Regions from separate parts of the Homo sapiens genome. Here regions 1 and 2 are each reported to be linked to region 3. The links are microRNA targets in miRTarBase. Many come from high-throughput screens and were not tested one by one. Region 3 holds a microRNA gene; each other region holds the end of a gene's coding sequence. Distances are from middle to middle.
Evidence for each region. Region 3 holds the annotated microRNA hsa-let-7f-2-3p (CUAUACAGUCUACUGUCUUUCC, at 3,249-3,270, shown strand). A microRNA usually pairs through its seed, bases 2 to 8, with sites in the 3' UTR of a target mRNA and lowers its output. Matches are read on the target gene's strand: a 7mer-m8 pairs with bases 2 to 8, a 7mer-A1 pairs with bases 2 to 7 and ends in A, and an 8mer does both.

Region 1: the mRNA of RAB39B is a reported target of hsa-let-7f-2-3p. Seed matches in the 3' UTR shown: 7mer-m8 at 2,143-2,149.
Region 2: miRTarBase lists CASD1 as a target of hsa-let-7f-2-3p. The part of its 3' UTR that is shown has no 7-base or 8-base seed match.

Annotation. Positions count from the first base shown.
Region 1 is chrX:155,256,205-155,261,280 of GRCh38, forward strand. RAB39B (RAB39B, member RAS oncogene family) reads right to left here. Exons shown (of 2, transcript NM_171998.4): 2 at 2,031-5,025. The coding sequence ends at 4,599. Among named protein-coding and RNA genes, the nearest start is that of RAB39B, 5.7 kb to the right of the region's middle.
Region 2 is chr7:94,555,085-94,560,160 of GRCh38, reverse strand. CASD1 (CAS1 domain sialic acid O acetyltransferase 1) reads right to left here. Exons shown (of 18, transcript NM_022900.5): 18 at 3,142-4,669. The coding sequence ends at 4,403. It overlaps LOC105375404 (a long non-coding RNA gene), which reads left to right and starts at 1,666. Exons shown (of 4, transcript XR_007060433.1): 1 at 1,666-1,739. RefSeq lists an enhancer at 4,002-4,051.
Region 3 is chrX:53,555,466-53,560,465 of GRCh38, reverse strand. MIRLET7F2 (microRNA let-7f-2) reads left to right here and starts at 3,192; the gene lies at 3,192-3,274. HUWE1 (HECT, UBA and WWE domain containing E3 ubiquitin protein ligase 1) reads left to right here. Exons shown (of 84, transcript NM_031407.7): 56 at 50-278; 57 at 934-1,112; 58 at 1,406-1,495; 59 at 1,657-1,811; 60 at 3,039-3,084. MIR98 (microRNA 98) reads left to right here and starts at 4,125; the gene lies at 4,125-4,243.

The DNA.
Region 1 (5,076 bases), 100 Mb from region 3:
GTCTCATAGGAGAGAGTGAGCAACCAGAACTTATAATCAGAACTCTAGAGGCTGTATAAAATTTGGTAATGCTTCAAGATAGGGACATGTGTGTATTTTACTGATGTGAAGTAAGAATCAAGGTCATTGGATTAAAGTAGAGCAAGAAAACAATCATTCATTCAAGTATGTATAGATGATTCAAGCACCTAACTTGCTACAAGTTAGAGAAATACTGGTGAACAAGATGAGTAAGATTTGTAGCCATGTTAAGAAATGTAGGGTTTATTTGGATTTTGTTCTAAATGTGACAATAAACCATCAGTGGGTTTTAATCAGAGGAATTACTTGATCTGACTTACGTTGTGAAAAGATCACTCTGGCTGTTAGGTTGAGAATGTATCATGGGAGTGGGAACAAGGACTAGGGAGGCTAGTTAGGAAGATAGCGAAGTAAGAGTTCATAGTGGCCTGGACAAACGTGGTATCAATGGAGATGGAGAAAAGTGGCAGACACACACACACACACACTCACACACACGTACATATATTTATTTATATATTTGTTTATTTATTTGAGACAGGGTCTTGCTCTGTCACCCAGGCTGGAGTGCAGCGGTGTGATTACAGCTCACTGAAGTGATCCTCCCACCTCACCCTCCCTTGTAGCTGGGACTACAGGCATGTGCTACCATGCTGGGCTATTTTTTTTTTAGGAGAGATGGGGTCTCATTGTGTTGCCCAGGGTCAGACACATATTTTGAAGTTAGAGTTGACAGTGCTAGATGATGGATTTGATATGAGAAATGAGGGGGAGTGAGGAATTAAGAATAACTCCCAATTTCTGTGAATGGTGGTGTCATTTATAGAGCTGAGGAAGACCGGGGTTGTTGGAGCACATTTTGATAGACGTTGAAGACATTGATTTTAGTATTGGATATGTTGAGTCTGAGAAATCTGTGGCTTTGTTTAGTAGGCAAGTTGGCTGTATTGATATAACGTTCAGAAAAGTGAGCTAGAGTTACTGATTTTGGAATCAGCAATGGAAAGATGGTAACTGAAGTCACGAGAGTGGGTAAGATTGTCTAGGGAGAGGAGAGGATAGAGAGAAGAAAGAGAGAAGAGAATTGGTCCTCTGACAGAACTGAGAACACCAAGTTCCTGAGAGGCTTAATATAGGCAGCAATCATTCCACCAACACTATGCCGGCAAAGGCCACTCATGACTTCCTGTTCTCTCAAATCTTGCGGATTCATTTTAGTTTTTATCTTTCTGAATCGACTGCTGCATTTTGATACTACTGTTCACACCATCCTATAAAACTGTACTCTCCAGGATTTCATTGTCTCCTTGTAAGTTTCCTTTCCCTTTTCTGTGTGCCCTACACTTTATTGTTACCCAGGGAAGACTAAAGAGTAAGACTCTAGGTTGAGCTGTCAGCAATGACTTTTGGAGCCACGTCTCTTAAATCTATAAGAGAATTAATATAAATGTGATAAAGCTGTACAGAACTTAGGCTACCTATCTACTTATGCCCAGACTCAGAATCCATTATCTTTCCTTTTTTTTTTAACCCTCCCCCCACCCTCATGTGTACTATCAATCCTGGGAAATGTGCTGAACTATTGTGTTCTTATGTTGGTGCCACACTGTAAGTGATCCTGGCATAAAAAGCATGCCGTAGTAGGATTTGAAAAAGCTGAGGCAACTTAGCCTGGAAAAAAGAAGACTTTCCAGGGAACATAATAGTTGTAATCAACTACTTGGCAACAGAATTAAGACTCTTGATTAAAAATCATCATGATGAAGATTTAGGCTTGACAGAACCAACTTTTCTCAAAGTGGCATATGCTCACCAGGAAGTATTGAGGTCCCAGGGACTTTTGATATGATGGTCAGATAACTTTCAAAAATTATATTCTCTTTCTGGCTTTAAGGTAATGGTGAATACGATTGTGTATGGTATATGTCACATCTTATTGATATCCTTGGTAGTAGTTGCTACGCTGTAGTAACAGATTCTGGAAATAGCTATAACACACACTTGGAATCTCACAGTCACATAATCAATCATTTTACTAAATACAAGCATATTTTCATTCACATACAGCTAAATAAAGCATTTTTCACATTTCATTACAGTGCACAACAAAGTGAGGAAAAGTATACAGTACATTTTATTCTGAAATATGAGACAATCTAATCCAACATGCAGTTGTGGTCTTTGTTACAAGTTAGTTTATCTTTTCTTTACCTATGTAGTAAAATAGCTTCTAAAGCTTTATCCTTAGTATTATATTAACACCTGATTCTTTTCACACTTATTTTCTAAAACCCACTTATTGCAGTGACAATGGTACTGAATTCTACTAAAATGATTTTTAAATTTTCTAGAACTTATTTAAGCAATTAAGCTCAGCCACCTCTGCTGGATTTATGCTGAATATTTTTAAACCTGCCAGAAAATGCCAGGAGTGGGAATACTGTACATATAATAAATTTTAGTGAAGAAAATTGTAGGGAAGTTTTGTTTCTTTCCTTTTTTGAACTGACAGAATCCAGTCGACTCTCATTTACCCACTGGATAATCTTGCTTTCAGAATCTTCTAAACATAATTCAGTATAGCAGTTGATGAAATTTTGTGTTAATGAAATTTGCCATGTTTTGTTTGTCTTTTACAACCACGAAGGTGGCAATTTAATTACCCCACCTAAGCCAGCTCTTGTGAAATGAATATAGAGAAGATGATCAGTTCACTTGTAGTTAATGCTGTGAACTGATCCAAAGTGGTTTGCTCATCCAACTTGGGGCACAGGTGGCAGAATAGTCTTCCATAATTTTCATGATTTGGTTTCTTTATTCTGGCTAAAGCAAATTCCCAAAGTTTCAGATTCGGTCACATTCATACTGAAGTTCAATATTATATCTCAAAGCGATTTGCCATTCTTAGGCCTTCCTATCACAATGGATATGAGAAACCTGACTCTAGTCAGAATAGTTTTTTTTTTTAATTGTGAAAAGTATGGCTTTTGCCTAGCTGAACTGGCTACAATCCAAAAAGTAATTTAAAGCATCACCTCTCTTCAAGAAAATAATGGAAACTTCAAGCCAGCCATTCCAATTTGCTGATGCAGTTAGCTGTTTGTTCACCTGAGAATTAAGGGCTGACTCTCTTGGGTAGACAGGAACTCAGTGTACGTATATGGCAGACAGGTGGCCAAGGTCATTTTGGGGTGGGTATTTTATCCCTATCCCACTCCGCATTGCTGTACGTGGTTCCTTTCAATAAAAATCCACTGTGTCTCAGTGATAAGAACACTTATAGCCCACACAGTTCTAATGTCTTTTTAGTTGTGCAATTATTCACTTGTTTAAAGCCCTCTTGTCAATAATGCCTGAATGGGCTTTACCTTTGATTCCTTCCCATGTTCCCTCAGGATTATAGCTGAGTTGTAATCAATAAGGAAAACATATCCTAACATGTAGAGAACATTTATTTATAGTCATATCTCTTCCCAAGTAAACAAATTCATAATCATTTATTCATCTGACAGCAGTATGATGCAGTGAAAAGAGCTAGGAGTCACGAGTCCTTGACCCTGGCCAAGTGATTTTCATGGCTCTTAGTTTACTATTCTGTAAAATGGGGCAAAAACCTCGTAGGCCTGTTATGATGATCAAATAAGTAGCCCAAGTAACTGTAAGCTGTTTGTAAGGGTTACAGTGCCTCCTGTTCAGCAGGAGAGAGTGTTTGCCTCAGGGCTCTTTTCAGAGGCAGTCACTGTGTTGTCACTGTCACGTGCCTGAAGAAGCAAGCAGACTGTTTACTTCCAGATTGCAGGTGCCAAGGCATTGAAACCCCAGGCATGGTCAAAGGAAAAAGGGGGTATGGCATTTGGGTTATAGTGTCTCTTTCCTAGTTATAGGGTAATTTGCATGGGACAATTTGTTTCATACAGCTGGTAATTCTATCACAAGGGTGTTCATTTTCTGAAATGTGCTAATAACTGTGTCGATTGCCTTCCTTTCCATAGTCACATCATTTTTACTTGAACACCAGACCTTTTGGTCTGTGTTCCTCATTTTACAGAAAGCTGTTAAAAGCTAATTGGTACCTTTTAACCAAACCCAGCAAACACCTTTGGTGCAGGGTATTCTCACGGAATAAGTAGAGCTCATAATCTTTGTTTAGTTATGCTAATTGTCCCCATTGTGAAACTTTTTTCCCCTTTATGTATTTCTTTATGTTCATGGCCTATAAGTGAGCTCAAATACCAAGGAACAGTTGTCCTGTCTGTAGGTATGTTTTCCTGGGACTTAGCTTCCTAAACCCCAGGCCTTTAACATGTGGTCCACAAAGGGCTCATGGAGCAGCCACTGCCTAGCATGGGCCACAAAACAGTGCCTGGCCTGGCCCATGTCAGCAATTCAGTCCCTTGGTCACAGCACTCAGGCACCCCCATCCACCCGCACACGAGTCTGTCAGAGTCCCCCTGAGAGGGAGGCTCACTTGGTATCCAAATGGAGGTTGAGTTCTCATCAGTTACACAAAGATTCTATTTATTTCTCTTACTTTTCAGTTCAAGTAGGAGAGCATGTTTTGGAAATAAAAGAACTGACTAGCACAAACATCTCCTCTCTGATTTGACAACCTCTTCTGAAGAGTGAACCACATTTGGTACAAATCCACTCTTCACCCCTTCCCAGCCCTCCTGGATTGTAATCTCCCCCCTTTTAACCAGCTCATATATGTCTCTTGTCAGGTCTGTGAAGGCTTTCTCCACATTAATGGCATCTCGGGCTGACGTTTCAATGTACTTCATGCCGTATGCAGCAGCCAGTTTCTCGGCCTCGTGGCGAGTCACTTGCCTCTGTGTATCCAGGTCACACTTGTGACCCACCAGAACAAATACAATTTGGTAGGGCTGAACGTGTACTTTGGTCTCTTCTAACCACTCATGGACATTCTGGAAGGACCTGCGGTTGGTAATGTCAAATAAGAGAAGACCACCTACTGAGTTCCTGTAGTAGGCGCGAGTGATGGATCTAAAACACAAGAAAGAAGTAAAGAGTAAAGGCTGTGCCCAAACTTCTGCA
Region 2 (5,076 bases), not on the chromosome of region 3:
CCGTCTATCAGCAGGACTTTGACCCTGTGACTTGTTAAAAACAAAACAAATACTAACCTACTTATGAAAGAGCTACAGTCAAAAATCAAGTACTAAGGATGGATAGAAAAGAGAAAGACAAAGCCTAAGAATTAAAACAACAAAACAAACCAACAAAACTGCCAGATATAGAATCAAGCTTTATTTTTACTGAATGATAGTATAAGCTTTTAATATAACATAGGCATGTATAATATTGAAGATATTTTAATTTGAAAATAAAGGGAAAATACATTTAATTATTCCATTTTTCTTAGTTTTACTTTGAATTCCAAATAAGAATTTTAATACATTTTTGGCTGGGCACGGTGGCTCACGCCTATATCCTAGCACTTTGGGAGACCGAGGAAGGTGGATCACCTGAGGTCAGGAATTCGACAACAGCCTGGCCAACACGGTGAAACCCCGTCTCTACTAAAAATATAAAAATTAGCCAGGCATGGTGGTGCACACCTGTAATCCCAGCTACCTGGGAAGCTGAGGCAGGAGAATTGCTTGAACCTGGGAGGCAGAGGATGCAGTGAGCCGAGATTGCGCCATTGCACTCCAGCCTGGGCAAGAGAGCGAGACTGCCTCTCAAAACAAAACAAAACAAAAGCAAAACAATTTTAGTATCTTTTTTACTAAGATGTAAAATGTCAGGTGCTCAGGACAATTTTACTGCTGAATCCCTGAAAGACAAAGGGTATTTTATTCCATTTCATATTTCCCCCAAATTGTTCATAATGGTTACTTTTGAACATAAATGTCTGCGTAATTGTAAAAGAAATTATTCCATATATATACATATATATATACACACACACACACACACATACACACACACACACACACACACACACACAGACATATATACAGAATTTGGGTATTCCAATATTGTTATATTTAGGTTCTGGTACCACATTGAATGCCAGTTAAATAGCTTCCATTTGTGTCTCCTTGTTTCTACTATGACTATTAATATGGAAAGGCAGAACAAATAGTGCCATTAAATTTTTGTAAGATTTAAAATCAGAAAATCAGGCCAGGCACAGTGGCTCACGCCTGTAATCCCAGCACTTTGGGAGGCTGAGGCAGGTGGATCGCTTGAGGCCAGGAATTGGAGACCAGCTTGGCCAACAGGGTGAAACCCCAACTCTACTAAAAATACAAAAATTAGCCAGGTATGGTGGCAGGCACCTGTAATTCCAGCTACTCAGGAGGCTGAGGCAGGAGAATTGCTTGAACCCAGGAGGCGGAGGTTGCAGTAAGCCAAGATCACGCCACTGCACTCCAGCCTAGGTGACAGAGTAAGACCCTGCCTCAAAAAATTAATTAATTAATTAAATAAAATAAGAAATCTATTCTGGAAATCAGTCATCAAACACCACAATTTTGGGAATATAGTTTGGACGACCACTTCCTTTTCTGGAAACCATTTTTAGAATAAGAAAATGAGCCAGAATACACCTTGCCAAATAAGTTTCCCCAAATCACAATTATGATTTGGGGAATGAACACAAGAATGAACAAATTAAGTCATAAATGTATGCAATCATTTTTGAATGTCTTTGCAGAGAAATATTCAAAGTGGTAAGATGGATTGAACTGCCAACCAAAATTGTCAATCTTTATTTCAGTCTTCACTATTAAGCTAAAAAGGTAATTTTTCTCTTGAATGATGTGAAGAATTGAATTTCTTTCAACTGTTCCAAAAATCTGTAAGTACAATACTACCTAATCTCCTGTTATGCAACAGACTCCCATGTGGTACATCCAATTCATTACACAAAACACTGAATTGTCTGCAATGCAAGCCATGGAACACATCCAGTTTATGATATCAATGACTATATCCAGGATGCATTCCCGTTTTAAGGTTTTAGTATAAAGTCATTCGAGAATAGAATAATAAATGAACTTGGGTCCCACATCCTTGTAAAACATTATTAATTTAGATGGGCTGAATTTTTAATGCTTCTATTGGCTACCCACAAAAATGGGAAGTTTTGGCAAAGGAAAGGAGGAACGATTGAGGTAGAATTCAGTCAAGCAAGTACCTTTTAAAGCCAGATGGTAGATTTCTGACTGTGATTTCTATTACAGAAAAATCTGAATTTAGAGAACCTCTGTGGTTTTATCTCAACTTTAGCATATCTAAACATCCTGTTAAAAATCTTATTCTAAAGAATGGTATGATTGAGTAATGCAAATGGTCAGTATCTGAGTCGATGCAGAAAATAAAATATTAAGACATTTACCGTATATATAGGTGCTATCATTGTGGCAACTTCCACAATAACCTTTTAAGACTAATTAAGAAAATCAAATATAAAAAATATTTTTAACTACAAATAAATTATTTTTAAATTATACAGATTATTATATAATTATATGTAAAAAATAGTGCTTTATATTAAATAAGAACAAGTGATGAAGAAACAGGGCTCACCAGGTAAGTTTTAGGCTTCAGTTCAAATAGGAGAGAAAAGCATATATTCACTGCGGCATCCCTACTGAAGACATAAGTGCTTCCAAAATACACAGGGAGACTGGTCATCTTTCTTTTTCAATTGTTTCATCAAGAAGAATCTTTTTCAGGTGATAAAACTTACAAGCTAAATTAAAATGCACTCTACTCATTGGCAAGCTACATGAACAAGAATAATGTGATCACAGTACTTGGAAGTTTTTGATTTATAACTATACTATTCTCTACTTATAAGGCTGCAGTCTAGGAGGCAGAGCAATGAATCATTACAATTGTCTATCTGGGAAATGTCAAAAGATTAAGTAAGGGCAAAAGAAGAGAGAAAAGGAAAGAACACACATCTCTGTCCAAGAAATATTCCTCTATTAATGGAGGTATATCAGTAGCACATAAATCCAGTGCTAAATAAATAATAAGTACATTTTTAAAATCTTCAAGCAAAATCACTAATGAACCATAATGCTTAAACTTCCTTGGTGGAAAGCAGATGACCCTCTGAAGCTCTGATAACTAAATGATTCCTTATCCAACTATCATTTGGTAACCTACCCCTACATATTAAGCAATTTAAAAAGCAAATTTAAGTTGAGGAAATAATTAGATATTTGAACCAATCATGAATGGATCCAGCATTTTTGAAAAAGAACACATATAGTTTAATTGATACTTTGCCAATACAAAAATAAGCATCCACAGAATGTTTATTTACTGTTTAAATTACTCCATATTTTCATATACTGTGAACAGAAAATATATTTTACCCCACATATAGTAAAAGCAAACAAGTGCAATCTTTCAAACATTAAAATCATAATCAAATCTGTACAACAGATAAATAAATGTATACCTCTAACAGTTAGCTTGTAAAAAAAAATCAAACAAAAAGCAAAAACATTTATTGCCCAAATTCACCAGTTTACTTAAAATTCTACTTATGGTAATACAGCTCAATCGTAACAACTTGCATGTTTACTACACTGCACAAGTTTAGACTGATAAATATTTAAAATAGGAGGTGGGTAATAGGAAATACCAAATGGCTATAAAGAGCTTTCCAAATATTGGAAATAATATACGAAAATTAATTAGTGGGGATAACATATTAAATGGATCCACAGGGTAACTGGTATTACACTGGTATAGCTTGAGGAAAGGAAACAGGTGAACGTTTGGATTGGAAAAAAAATTTTGGCTTTTTTATAAAACGAAGCAACAATAACATCAACAATGACAAAACCCTGTCATGGAGCCTCAGAACTATTCTGTGAGACAAAGTGTACAAAGATTTAGGCTTGCATACCCGAAAACCACAGTTAGGAAGAAAAATCATTTCAGGAAACAACATCAGAACAAGAACACATATAAATTAAAGGCATACTGTTTATCATTCCACTTCATTGCACATATAAGAAAACAATACTGCCGTCATTCTTGAGTAAGAAAGTTTCCAATGAAAGAGGAAGTTCCACAATGAATACAGGTGCAGACAGTCTTATTACCACAAATTTAGTTATATCAAAACACTTGGTGGTGTCACTAAGTTAATTAAATTATCTATACTTTTTACTGGAAAGGTAATCATTTCCCTGCCTTCATATGTTAACTTAAAATCACTTACAAATGGAAATATAGATTCAGTAGAAAAGACTTCACATGCAATCCTATACAATGCATTCTGGTTTTTTGTTTGTTTGTTTGTTTTAGTATTTCATATTGGATATGTACATTTCCAATATATACAACCACATATGTTCAACAGATGTCACAGAACTGTCCTCTTGCCACAAACGTTTATATTTACATACACATTTATATCTCCAGATAGATGCTTTTCTCTTCTAGAGACACACAAAGGTAGCCTGAAGAGTTTAGGTTTTTTAGAATTTTTGGAACCTAATGTTTTGATTTATCTTGAATGGATGATAAGATGAGGAGTCCACAAAAAAATGCAGCTATACATGCCAACCTTTTCAAGAGAGATGAGTTATCTTTAGGAATAATAATCTGTGCAAGATCATTAGTGATCTGAGAAATTTCATGTGCCACACAAACAAATATGAAAGTGCTGACAATGATGTTGAGCATAGGGTTTCCAGGTATCAGTACCAAGATACCCCTTGTGTCCGCTGCCAGCCATATGTGATACTGGCAAATAAATAGCTAGGAGAAAAAATATTTAAGTCAGATATTTATAGAGGGTCCATGAATAAATTACAGTTTTCCCTAATTTAAACAATTTGGTTGCATAATAACATTAGAAGGCTTTCCTAAAACCATTTTATTCTGTCTCACTACTGGCCCTGAAAAGTCCACTGCAGTCTACTCCTTAGAACTCCAACTGCTAATACAATCTCTCTTATAAATGAGACCAAAGAAAATAATAGAACAATTATTCAAGAACTCAAAGAGGAATTTATTTTCCCTATTTTAAGAGACAATTTAATAAATCCTATACTCTAAAAACTCTAAAATATATGTTGTTATTACAATATAAATTGTTTTAAAACATTCTATTTCAAATAATAAAGCTTAGACTACTCAGAATACATTTTAAAACCTACTGTTCA
Region 3 (5,000 bases):
GGAAGAAATTTCTTTTTGACACTGACCCTTTTACATATTGTCCTTGCAGCAGACATCCCCCCATCCCCAGGAAATATCCCTACCACCCATCCACTGATGGTGCGCCATGCAGACCACAGTTCTCTGACACTGGGCAGTGGCTCTTCAACAACTCGTCTCACCCAGGGCATCGGGCGCAGTCAGAGGACCCTAAGGCAGCTGACGGCCAATACTGGCCACACCATTCATGTTCACTACCCTGGGAATCGCCAGCCCAACCCTCCTCTTATACTGCAGAGGTGAGTTACAGAGATCTGTTGGATTCATCGGAGCTCTTGTAAGAATTTTCACTGTGCTTTAGCATTGTCTTAACCTTGGGGGAAATAGTCCATCACTTAATGTTCTTGTCATACACACAAATAAGGTATTTGTTCCATTTCTTTGTGGATTACATGTGTAGCCTTTTGGGGAGTGCAGCCTTTTGGGGAATACCAAATTATGTCAATAGTTCTGCGCATGTATTTAGCAATTATTAAGTGTCTCATGCCAAGCACTTAACACTTTAGATATAGACGGGACAAGATCCCTGCCCTCAGGCTTAGAGTTTAGTGAGACAAACAATCTTAAGAAGTAAAAGAAAGGCATATAAGTGTTGTAATGGTTGGTGTACAGACGACAGAGAGGGTGTAGTGGAGGCAATGTGACCTGACGCAGTGCCTGGCACGTGGGAGCTTATTGACACCCACTTGGTGCCAGGAACTATGGAATAATATACAACTTAAGTACAAAACCAGGGTGGTATTCAGAAAAATAACTTAGACTTGTGTGCACATCATCAGGTTTATAATCATGTTCTGCATTTAATAGAGGATGCATGAAGAGGATCTCATGGTAACAGGTTGCAGGGCACCTCTGGACTTAACAGTGATCATGGTACCCACCATTACCCTACAGGTTGCTTGGTCCCTCAGCTGCTGCTGACATCCTTCAGCTGAGCAGCAGCCTTCCCCTACAAAGCCGGGGTCGGGCCCGCCTCCTGGTAGGCAACGATGACGTCCACATCATCGCCCGTTCTGATGATGAGCTGCTGGATGACTTTTTCCATGATCAGAGCACAGCTACCAGCCAAGCAGGCAAGTTTGTGTGGTGAAAGGGAGGGTAGAATTTGTCAGATTCTACTTTTTCCCTGCTGAGGAAAAGCAAGACAGTGTCTGCCCTATAGAAAACCCCCATTTTATAGGAGCCAGAACCACTCAGTGACTTAGCCATGGGCAACAAAAACTTTATTGTCTCTAGGTACTTGTTATGTTCTAAACATTGTGATAGACCTTGGGTCCTTTTAGGGAAATACTGCAATTTTTGGATCGGTGGATCAGTTAATGCTTGACAAGGCCAAGAATCTCATTCCCCTTTGCTGTCCCTACAGGAACCCTGTCCAGCATCCCCACAGCCCTGACCCGCTGGACAGAAGAATGCAAAGTTCTCGATGCTGAGAGCATGCATGACTGTGTTTCAGGTGCGTGGCAGCTTGGTTATCAGGGCAATAGTGAGCCTTCCAGAGCTAGGGCAAACGTGTGGAGAGTTGTTTCCCTGGTTCTCTGTGGCTACAAGCTCTGCCTCTTGGCTTCCTCCCTGACCCCACCAGAGCAGCCTTTGATTTTTGCCTCTTTGAAACAGTGGTTAAAGTGTCCATTGTCAATCACCTGGAATTCCTGAGGGATGAGGAGCTGGAAGAAAGGCGAGAGAAGCGCAGGAAACAACTGGCTGAGGAAGAAACAAAGATAACTGATAAAGGCAAAGAAGATAAGGAGAACAGGGATCAGAGTGCACAGGTGATTCCCAAGGGCTGGGAGGATTCATCTTTGACTGTGTCTGCCGTAATGTGGTTTTGGCATACACATGGCACCAGGAATCACTGAAGAATCCTAGAACGTTCACGTTGAACCTGGGAAATTTTTTATTTCAAATTCACCATACATTGACCTGGTTTTTAGGGGAAAGAATTCAAACCTAGAGGGGAGATTTCTCAAGTGTCAAGGGAAAAACTGGAGCCAGAAGCAGAATGGCTTCTCACTCAACAGTCACACTGCATAGTCTCTACCGCCAAGGACAGCATCAAGACAAGGAGAAAAACCTTATCTAAGTCCATGCTCTTAGTCGCCCACTTCCATTTCTGTCGGTGAACTGCCAGTGTGGGGAATCTTACCGAGATGACCCCATTCCGTCATTTGAGTAAGATCAGCCTAGGTGTCAGATCAGAGAAAATGTTTGTACTCTGAACCCCATCACCACATGTCATTTTTTCTAGGGCTCACATGTATAAAATCACTAATACAATTTTGGTTTAGAAGGAAGTTACCTACTTTTTTCTGAAACTTCTGGGACCTCAGACAGAGATCTTTTAAATGTCTGAGTAAATGTTGATAGAATTATACATTACAGTGTATCACTTGATATAAAAGGGGGAAAAACTGATAGAAATACAAAGAAATAAGACTTGAGAGTGAAAGACTTTAGTATACCCTACTCAGCAGTTAAGGAATCAGGTAGATTAAAAATAAGGGTAGTGAAGTGTTCAGTTAAAATAACAAGGTTGATCTAACAAATATCTTTATATAGAACTTTTTACCTAATACACACATTGTTTCAAACTTGATATAGGATGAAAAATAAGTGAACCTAGCCTGTGACTGAAAAGACTAGAGTGGACAAAATAAAAAATAAGCCCCATGAAGGGAAAAAATACATAGATGAAACCAAGAAATTCTTGCTAGAATGATCATGATCGTGCCCATCCCTAAGGGGTTTTTATTATCCTTTCCTTCCATATTTATTTCCCCCTCAGCCCCAAACAATTCTTGAACCTGAGTATGTATAGAGAAATTGGTCATATATTTGCACAGTGAAATGATCACCTTCCTTTGGTCACATGGCCAAAGCATTCTCCATTAGATCACTGAACTCCTAGATGGTCTGGGTGGAGGATGGTGACTATTACAGTTGACCTCTATCTTAGGTGCTTGCAAAGTCCCACATTGGTCTATCCCTTCTTTTTGCAGTGTACTGCATCTAAGTCAAATGACTCCACTGAACAGAATCTCTCAGGTAACTCTCCTTCCCTTTCTCCCTTCTTACTAATCAATTGGTTGCTTCTTTATCCTGATAGTTCCGAGTAGCTGGCCCACATAGGCTGAAGATGGACACTGGTGCTCTGTGGGATGAGGTAGTAGATTGTATAGTTTTAGGGTCATACCCCATCTTGGAGATAACTATACAGTCTACTGTCTTTCCCACGGTGGTACACTTCTTCTCCGACTGGCTCTGTTCAGGTTCTTGTTCTGGTTATTATCTACTTTGTTCTGGCATGGGTAATGAGGTCATGTGTCTTGTTCATTTCCTGACTGCAACTCTGTCCTCTGAAACAGCATGTTCATGTACATCTTTGAAGTGGCTGGTCCTTTGATGACCACCATGGTGTGGCACTTCATGAGAATAACTGATGACAGTGGTTCTCAAATGCCAGTCCTCTGTGGAAACGAACAAAATCAAGGAGCTTTAATGCCTTTTTCATAAAGCTGAATTTATTCCATTTAAAAGGCTGTTTTTGTATTTAGAGATCATATTCCTAATTCTGTGGTACCAAAATATTTTTATTAAATGATGTTGATTGGATGTTTTTTCTTACATGGCTAAACTAAAAGTTGGCAACCCCTACATTAGTCTCTACTTTTTGTTCTTTTTTTAATTAAATTTTATTGGTCCATGGAATCTAAAAGTCTAGGAACATTGTCTTGGATAGTGTGCTGTTCATGAAGGTAGCTCTCTGGGCTTAGTGGTATGACTGCCGTATGTTTCCTATTCCCTCTGATCTTCTTAACAATGGTCAGTAGCCATTTTGTGATTCTATCAGTTGGTTCATGTGATATCATATGTCTCCCCCACCCATATTTCCTCAGAACATTCTTCTGCCTCCCTACACCTGTCTCCTTTCGCACTTGAGTTGGAAAATGATTGTACCAAAGCCTGCACAATATTTTTTAAAGCAGTGAAGTAGGGTAGATGCCTTGGTACCCTTAATCTAGCAAAAGATCTTTAAAAGAGTCTGTCACCATGTAAAATGGCCTTTTGCCTGCTGCCCTTATTAGAGGATTCTGCTCATGCCAGGGTGAGGTAGTAAGTTGTATTGTTGTGGGGTAGGGATATTAGGCCCCAATTAGAAGATAACTATACAACTTACTACTTTCCCTGGTGTGTGGCATATTCACACTTAGTCTTAGCAGTGTTGCCTCCATCAGACAAAGTTGTAGATGTTCCTTGGATAATTTGGACTGGAAGAAAAGAGACATGGAAGGGGACAGATGGTGTTTAGGGTGAGGCAGATGTCATTATAAAGTGACTTGTCTTTCATTAATTGGAGCATATAATTATTTTACCTTTGGGCATGAACTCATTTTGCTATTCTTCAACTGTGTAATGATTGCATTTTATTAGTAATAGAACAGGAATGTGTGCAAGGGAATGGAAAGCATACTTTAAGAATTTTGGGCCAGGCGCAGTGGTTCATGCCTGTAATCCCAGCATTTTTGGGAGGCCGAGGCGGGTGGATCACCTGAGGTCAGGAGTTCGAGACCAACCTGGCCAACACGGCGAAACCCCGCCTCTACTCAAAATACAAAAATTAGCCAGGCTTGGTGACACTCGCCTGTGGTCCCAGCTACTCAGGAGGCTGAGGCAGGAGAATTGCTTGAACCCAGGAAGTGGAGGCTTCAGTGAGCTGAGAACACGCCACTGCACTCCAGCCTGGGCAACAGAGCAAGACTCTGTCTCAGGAAAAAAAAAAAAAAAAAAAAGATTTTGAAGGGCTGGACGCAGTGGCTCACGCCTGTAATCCCAGCACTTTGGGAGGCCGAGGTGGGTGGATTGCTAGAGCTTAGGAGTTTGAGACCAGCCTGGGCAACATGGCAAGACCCTGTCTCTACTAAATATACAAAAAATTAGTCAGGTATGGTGGCACATGCCTA